2 linked regions of the Homo sapiens genome follow. The protein of the gene in region 1 purifies or fractionates together with the protein of each later gene. This does not show direct contact. Each region holds a gene or a part of one and is shown on either strand. Other genes may lie near its edges.

Region 1 (3,500 bases):
TGCAGCCTTGACATCCCTGGCTCAAGAGATCCTCCCTCCTCAGCCTCCTTAGTAGCTGCGATTTACAGACACATGCCACCATGCACAGCTAATTTTTTTTTTTTTTTGAGATGGAGTTTCGCTCTTGTTGCCCACGCTGCAGTGCAATGGCGCCATCTCGGTTCACCACAACTTGCACCTCCCGGGTTCAAGCAATTCTCCTGCCTCAGCCTCCCGAGTAGCTGGGACTACAGGTGTCCACCACCACACCCAGCTAAATTTTGTGTTTTTAGTAGAGACGGGGTTTCACCATGTTGGTCAGGCTGGTCTCAAACTCCTGACCTCAGGTAATTCACCTGCCTCAGCCTCCCAGAGTGCTGGGATTATAGGCGTGAGCCACTGCACCTGGCCACAGCTAATTTTTAAAATAATTTTTGTAGAGATTGAGTCACTGTGTTGCCCAGGCTGGTCTTGAACCTCTGGTCTTGTGTGATCCCTCTTCAGCCTTCCAAACTGCTGAGATTACAGGCGTGAACCACTGTGCCAGGCTGAAATTGGTCATCTTAAGATAAAGACAGTGCTGTTATTACCCATTCCCAGTTTCACAGTTTACAAGGCTGTTTGATGGTAGCAACTATTCTCCTTTTATACAAACAGCCTGGACTGGATGCCTCTTGGGCTTGTCTATGTGAATCCTTTATGATTAGTCTGATGAAGATTCTTTGGAGCAAATTTATCTTTTTCTAAGGTACATCCTTTAATGACCCTTTTATCTCAGGGAGAAAGAGAGTAATGATAATAACAGTAACAAAATAAATATTAACTACTATGTACCAGGCACTGTTAGGCATTACAATTGTTTGTGCATTCACTCATCGAACCTTTGCAACATCACTAAGAGGTAGGAGCCCCATTCCCGATTTATAGATAAGTAGGTTGAGATTTGTAGCTTTACCGAGGTCACACAATAAGTCCCAGAGTTGGAACTTGCCAGCTGGTCTCCAAAGCTGGGGTTGTTAACCAAACCAATATCTACCTGTGAGGATTGGGCTGTCTTTTGATGCAGGAAGTAGGGCTTAGAGAGGGCCAGTGTCATTCTGGGTTAACTGTCCTGTTTCGGCTTGGTCTTCTGTCCTTCAGGGAAGCTTGTGGGCTGTGCCATCATCCATGTCAATGGAGACAGCCCAGAGGAAGTGGTCCGTGCCACACGACTGGCTTTTGAATACCAACGCCAGTTCCGCAAGGATGTGATTATTGATCTGTTGTGCTACAGGCAGTGGGGCCACAATGAGCTGGATGAGCCATTCTACACCAACCCCATCATGTACAAAATCATCAGGTACAATTATAAACCCTTGTGTGATATGCCCCCTAAAAATTAAAATTACTATTATTATTCTTTTGAGATGGAGTCTTGCTTTGTCACCCAGTCTGGAATGCAGTAGCACGATCTTGGCTCACTGCCATCTCCACCTCCCGGGTTCAAATGATCCTCCTGCCTCAAGTGATCCTCTTGCCTCAACCTCCCGAGTAGCTGGGATTACAGGCGTGTGCCACCGTGCCTGGCTAGTTTTCATACTTTTTAGTAGAGATGGAGTTTTGCCATGTTGGCCAGGCTGATGTCAAACTCCTGACCTCAGGTGATCTGCCTGCCTCGCCCTCCCAAAGTGCTGGGATTACAGGCATGAGCCACCATGCCCAGGCAGGACATGAAACTTTAAGAGCTAAAGCTGACACAGTTCTGGGCTGGAGTGCAGGTGGCACAGTCTTGGCTCACTGCAACCTCTGCCTCCTGGGTTCAAGCAATTGCAATTCTTGTGCCTCAGCTTCCTGAGTAGCTGGGATTACAGGTATGCATCACCACGCCTGGCTAATCTTTGTATTTTTAGTACAGACAGGGGTTTCGCCATGTTGGCTAGGCTGGTCTCAAACTCCCGGTCTCAAGTGATCCACCTGCCTTAGCCTCCCAAAGTGCTAGGATTACAGGCATGAGCCACCGTGCCTGGCCTCCCATACTCTTCACACTTGACATGGTTCCTCATTGAATAGAAAAAGGGCAATAGAAAACTCAGCAGATGGGAAGATTGAAGCAGGGGGAATTAAGCAAACCTCGCCCAAATCTATTTACTGCAGTGTCGGCAGGACCAGAAATAGAACCTCAGTGATTCATTTCTACAAACCATAGCTGCAGACCTGCCTGGCACCTTGGTGAGAGGTAACTCAGAAGATTCTAATGAATGTTCAGAACCATGCTGTCCAAGATGGAAGCCACTAGCCATCAGTGGCTATTGAGTACTTGAAAAGTGGCCAGTCCTGATTAATGTGCTGTAAGGATAATACACACACCATATTTCAAACACTTAGCATGTAAAATATAAACCCAAAATAATATTTTTAAATTTATTAGATATGGAAATGACAATATAATGAGTATATTGACTTAAATAAAATATGTTATTGAAATGCCGGGCATGGTGGCTTATGCCTGTAATCCCAGCACTTTGGGAGGCCAAGGTGGGTGGATCACTTGAGGTCAGGAGTTTGAGACCGGCCTGGCCAACATGGTGAAACCCCATCTCTACTAAAAATAGAAAAATTTGGCCAGGCGCGGTGGCTCACGCCTGTAATCCCAGCACTTTGGGAGGCCGAGGCGGGCGGATCACGAGGTCAGGAGATCGAGACCATCCTGACTAACACGGTGAAACCGCGTCTCTACTAAAAATACAAAAAATTAGCCGGGCGTGGTGGCGGGCGCCTGTAGTCCCAGCTACTCGGGAGGCTGAGGCAGGAGAATGGCGTGAACCCGGGAGGCGGAGCTTGCAGTGAGCCCAGATCGCACCACTGCACTCCAGCCTGGGTGGCATAGCGAGACTCCGTCTCAAAAAAAAAAAAAAAAAAAAAGAAAAGAAAAGAAAAGAAAAAGAAAAATTAGCTGGCGTTGTGGCGCGTGCCTGTAGTCCCAGCTACTCGGGAGGCTGAGGCAACAGAATCGCTTGAACTGGGGAGGCGGAGGTTGCAGTGAGCTGAGATTGTGCCACTGCATTCCAGCCTGGGCGACAGAGCGAGACTCGGTCTCAAAGAAAAAACAAGAAGAAAAGAAATTAATTTCACCTGTTTCTTTTTATCTTTTCTAACGTGACTGCCAGAAAATTTTAAATTACTCATGGCTTGCATTTCATTTCTGTCCCATGGTGCTGATTCAGATGGTTAATGTGACGGAGGGGGAATTTGTTACTTTGGAACTTCCTTTTCTAGATACTAGAAAATAAAATAGATTCCCCTCCTCCAAGTTTATTTCCTTATAGATATAAATTAAAGCAGAGGAATACACGTTTTATGAGCGTTTCTGATCCTTGGTACCAGAAAGAGGACTGCTCTCAGAAGAACTAATTGTGTTCTGTTTAGCTCTGAATTTAGCAGCTGAATGACTCAGTGAACCTCAGGGTTCTATTTTATTTTATTTATTTTTTTGAGACACGGTCTTGCTCTGTCGCCCAGGCTGTAGTGCAGTGGTATGATCA
Region 2 (5,096 bases), on another chromosome or scaffold:
TTCTGGATGAACCACATGTTTTCTACAGACAGGGCTGGAGAGAAGCTGATGATAACAAGTCACTGAGTGAGGGGTGTGTGTGAGGATGGAGCCCAGCAGGAATCTTAGGCTTGCCACTGTCTACCCTGCAGGTCTGAGGAAGATCCTGAAGGTTGTGGGGCAGGTTCCAGATCTGCCATCCTGCCTGCCCCTGACTGACAACACCCGCATGCTGGCCTCTATCCTCATCAACAAGCTCTATGATGACCTGCGCTGTGACCCGGAGCGCGATCACTTCCGCAAGATCTGTGAGGAATATATCACGTAAGTTTCCTGGAGGCCTCACAGGGTCAGGCTCTGTCTTGGTTATCTATGGCTGTGTAACAAATTATCTCAAAATTTAGCAGCTCAAACAATAGTGTTTTATTATCTCACACCAGAACAGAAATTTGGGAGTGGTTTGGCTGGGTGGCTCTGGCTTATGGTCTTTCATGAAGTTACAGTCATATGCTGGCTGGGGCTGCAGCCATCTGGAGGCTTGACTGGGGCTGGAAAATGCTTCCAAGATGGTGGACTCACACAGCTGGCACACTGGTGCTGGCTGTTGGTGGGAGGCCTTGGTTCCTCTCCCTGCAGACCTCTCTGCAGCCTGCTGAAGCGTCTTCACTGCATGCCGCTGGCATGCCACAGTAAGAGAGCCAAGACAGAGCAAGGCAGCAGGGAGATGTCTTCTCTATCTAGCCTCAGAAGACACATGTCATCACTTCCGCCACATTCTATTCGTTAGAAGCAAGTCAGTAAGTTTGACCTATGTTTAAGGGGAAGAAATTAGGTTTCAGCTTTTGAAGGCAGGGGTGTCAACATATTTTTGGACATATTTTATTTTATTTATTTTTTGAGACAGAGTCTCACTCTGTTCCCCACGCTGGAGTGCAGTGACACAATCATAGCTCACTGCAGCCTCGAACTTTTGGGCTCATGTAATCCTCCTACCTCAGCCTCCCAGGGTAGCTGGGACTACAGGCACTTGCCACCATGCTGGGCTAATTTTTTTTTTTTTCTGTCACCCGGGCTGGAGTGCAGTGGCATGATCATGACTCACTGCAGCCTCAGCCTGCTGGGCTCAAGCGATCCTCCTGCCTCTGCCTCAGCCTCCCAAGTAGCTGAGACTATAAGTGTGCACTACCACGCCTGGCTAATTTTTGTATTTTTTGTTTTGCTATGTTTCCCAGGCTGGTATTGAACTCCCAAGCTCAAGCAATCTTCCTGCCTCTGCCTCCCAAAGTGCCGGGATTACAGGCATCAACTACCTTGCCCAGCCATGGACATATTTTATACCTACCACTGGCTTCTGTGGTTGAAAGGAACACATGTCAGCTTGTCAAGGAGGGAGGCCCGGTTCTTTCAAGACTAAGACTCATGTGGCTTTGCAGAGCTAGACAGGGGTTAGGACCCTCAGCAGCTGCAGTTCCTGAGTCTCCTCACTGGTGCTCCAGCATCAGTGTGACTCCAGTGCATGACCTTTTAATTCTTTATTGCAGTGATTCCCAGACTTGTAAATTATTCAGATTTCTGAGACATCCCCTCTTGACTCGGTAGTTTGGGGTGTGGCTCAGGAAGCTGCATGCTTAAAAGCACTCCAGGTGAGTCTTAGGTGGGTGAAGACGTTGCCTTTACTCTGCTTTTCCTTTCTATATTCCAGGGGTCAACAAACTTTTTCTATGAAGGGCCAGAGAGTAAATATTTTAGTATTTGTGGGACAGATAAGTCTCTGTCAACATATTTTTAAAAATCCTTTAAAATGCAAAAAGCTGGCTGGGCACAGTGGCTCACGCCTGTAATCCCAGCACTTTGGGATGCCGAGGAGCGCGGATCACCTGAGGTCAGGAGTTCAAGACCAGCCTGACCAACATGGTGAAACCCCATCTCTACTAAAAATACCAAAAATTAGCCGAGTATGGTGGCACATGCCTGTAATCTCAGCTACTAGGGAGGCTGAGGCAGAAGAATCGCTTGAACCCAGGAGGTAGAGGTTGTAGTGAGCCAAGATCGCACCACTGCACTCCAGCCTGGGTGACAGAGCAAGTCTCCATCTCAAAAAGAAAAAAGAAAGGCAAAAAGCTGCTGGCCAGGTGTGGTGGCTCATGCCTGTAATCCTAGCATTTTGGGAGGCCGATGTGGGAGAATTGCCTGAGACCAGGAGTTTGAGACCAACCCAGGCAATGTAGAGAGACCCTCATCTCTAAAAAAAAAAAAAAAAAAAAAAAAATTAAAAATGAGTCAAGTGTGGTGGCACACCCCTGTAGTCTCAGCTACTTGGGAAGCTGAGGTAGGAGGATCACTTGAGCCCAGGAGGTCAAGGCTGCAATGAGCCTTGAATGCACTACTGCACTCCAGCCTGGGCAAGAGCGTGAGACCCCGTCTCAAATAAAATAAAATAATGTGAAAGCTATTCTCAACTCCCTGGATTTGCCAACTCCTTCTCTACCCCACGGCTTCTGCTCACCCTGACTTTGGTTCACTTAGGTCTTTTCAAGGCTTCTGTCTTTCTCTACCTCAGTTTCAACTTTTCCTGCTGACTTCTTGAGTCCCTCATGAGGTCCCCAACTGACTCCCATTACCTGTCATCCAGCTAGTTCTTGTTTGGGCTTGTTGATTGAGGCTCCCTCCTGTCAGCCTGTGGAATGCTGAGAGGAGGGGTCACTGCCTTCATCAAATGGTGCCCCAGCCTGCCCCTAGCAAGAGTGGAATACATCCCGCTTCATCAGGGGCGGGGGCTGTGTGGGGACCCAGTGCCAGCTCAAAGGTCAGACCGCAACTAATTACGAAGGATGCTGGTTCCCTGGGCACTGAGTGGAGAGATGAGGCACAGGACATGGGATGCTCAAGCTGGAGGGGCTGTCAGAGCTTCCAAAGCTGAGTCCTCTTCCCCAGGGGAACTTGCCTGAGATCCTCCAGCAATCAGAGGCAGACATGGGACCAGAGCCCAGGTCTTGGACTCTTGGTGTGGAGTTCTCCTGACCAGTCCACGCTGCCTTCTTGCATTTATACACAGCTGCATTTCCACTGTGCACATCTGCCCTGTTTCCCACAATGCACCAACCTGGGCAGATGAGAAGCATCAGAAGGCATGTCACCTCTGACATTCCCACGCAGAGATTCTCCCCTAGAGTAGATGATAATAGATTCTGAAAGCAAGGCAGAACGTTCCTGGATATCTAGCCCACATGCTCACCAACAGGGGAAGGGACTAAGACCAGATCACCAGAGGGGAGTGACTGGCCCAGGCCATGTCACAGAGAGACACAGTGTGCCGGGCATCACGCTAGGCCTTTTTGTGTTGTTGTCAATGCTGTACTGTCCTCCCAGACACAGCAGCTGCTGGAAAGGCTGTCAGCTGACAGCTCTCAGCTGTTATCTCTCTTTGGGACTTGTCTCACCTGGGGAGAGCTGTTTCACCCTTCCCAGGGAAGCCAGTATGCAAACACTCACACCAGGCTAGTTGAGGTGACTCAGACCTATAATACCAGTGCTTTGGGAGGCCAGGTGGAAAGATCATCTGAGGCCAGGAGTTTGAGATCAGCTTGGGCAACATAGCAAGATCCCATCTCTACAAAAAAATTTAAACAATTGTCTGAGCATGATTGTGTGCACCTGTAGTCTCAACTGCTCAGGAGGCTGAGGTGGGAGGATTGCTTGAGCTTAGGGGTTTGAGGTCACAGTGAGCTATGATGGCACCAGTGCACTCCAGCAACAGAGCAAGACTCAGTCTCAAAAAAAAAAAAAAGAAAGAAAAAGACTCACTCTAACTTGGAACAACTGTGAAGGGTCTTCCAGCTCCAGAACTTCTTGGAGGCTGAGGCTTTGTGATAGCTGCAAAATGCCTCCCTCTGCCCCAGTCCTGCTTCCTTCTCTTCCCAAGAGCTCTCTCTAATAAACTTCCTGCATGTCAATCCCTGAGTCAGAGTGTATTTCCCAGAGGCACACTCTGTGACACAGCTGTTATGTCATTTATCCTCACCACAACTCTGAGAACTAGTAGTACTATCCTCAGTTTACAGGAGCTGAGGCTCAGAGAGGTTCGCTGAATTGCCCAATATCACACAGCACATGAGTGGTGGAGCCAGGATGCAAATCCAAATCCTACTGCCTCCAAATCTCACACTCTTTCCACTCTCTTGGACCAGTTCTCTTGACCACCCTTGTCCTTTGTTTTAGGGGCAAGTTTGACCCCCAGGACATGGACAAGAACTTGAATGCCATCCAGACAGTGTCAGGGATCCTGCAGGGCCCCTTTGACCTGGGCAACCAGCTGCTGGGACTGAAAGGTGTGATGGAGATGATGGTGGCACTATGTGGCTCAGAGCGCGAGACGGACCAGCTGGTGGCCGTGGAGGCCCTCATCCATGCCTCCACGAAGCTCAGCCGCGCCACCTTCATCATCACCAATGGAGTGTCACTGCTCAAACAGATCTACAAGACCACCAAAAATGAGAAGATCAAGATCCGCACACTGGTGGTGAGTGGGCTCGGTACCACCCTCCTACTCAGTACAAGGTGCCATGCCAGGCACCAGGGACACCAAAATGAATGAGTTGAGGCTGCTGTCCTTGAGGAGACCAGGTTCAAGGGGGCACCAGACCCAGCCACAGACCCCTGCAGAACAGGGCAATATCCAGGGGGCTTGTGAGGATGTAGATTCAGAACCGTGAACTCTGCTGCTTAACCCTGAGGACGTTCGTCTCCCTGCTTATGAACAACATGAACACTGAGGAGCTTGTGTCCAGAATGCATTTTCAGAGCAAATTCTGAAGAGTCACTTTCCTTAATCAGTTTCTATAAGGTATTTTTTTTCCACTTTCATTTTACTTTTTGTTTTTTTGAGATGGAGTCTCACTCTGTCACCTAGGCTGGAGTGTAGCAGCGAAATCTCAGCTCACTGCAACCTCCGCCTCCCAGGTTCAGGTGACTCTTGTGCCTCAGCCCCCAGAGTAGCTGGAATTACAGACGTGTGCCACCACACTCAGCTAATTTTTGTATTTTTAATAGAGACGGGGTTTCGCCATGTTGGCCAGGCTGGTCCTGAACTCCTGACCTCAGGTGATCCACCCCCCTGG

Evidence for each region. Proteins that work in one complex are often made in the same cells at the same time.
Region 2: the proteins of DHTKD1 (region 1) and UNC45B purify together in Homo sapiens (affinity purification with mass spectrometry; one large-scale study listed by BioGRID and IntAct). This does not show direct contact.

Annotation. Positions count from the first base shown.
Region 1 is NC_000010.11:12,092,954-12,096,453, forward strand, and holds part of DHTKD1 (2-oxoadipate dehydrogenase complex component E1), read left to right. Parts: intron 1-1,119; coding exon 1,120-1,318; intron 1,319-3,500. UniProt on the Homo sapiens protein: 2-oxoadipate dehydrogenase (E1a) component of the 2-oxoadipate dehydrogenase complex (OADHC). Participates in the first step, rate limiting for the overall conversion of 2-oxoadipate (alpha-ketoadipate) to glutaryl-CoA and CO(2) catalyzed by the whole OADHC.
Region 2 is NC_000017.11:35,163,864-35,168,959, forward strand, and holds part of UNC45B (protein unc-45 homolog B), read left to right. Parts: intron 1-131; coding exon 132-303; intron 304-4,197; coding exon 4,198-4,498; intron 4,499-5,096. UniProt on the Homo sapiens protein: Acts as a co-chaperone for HSP90 and is required for proper folding of the myosin motor domain. Plays a role in sarcomere formation during muscle cell development. Is necessary for normal early lens development.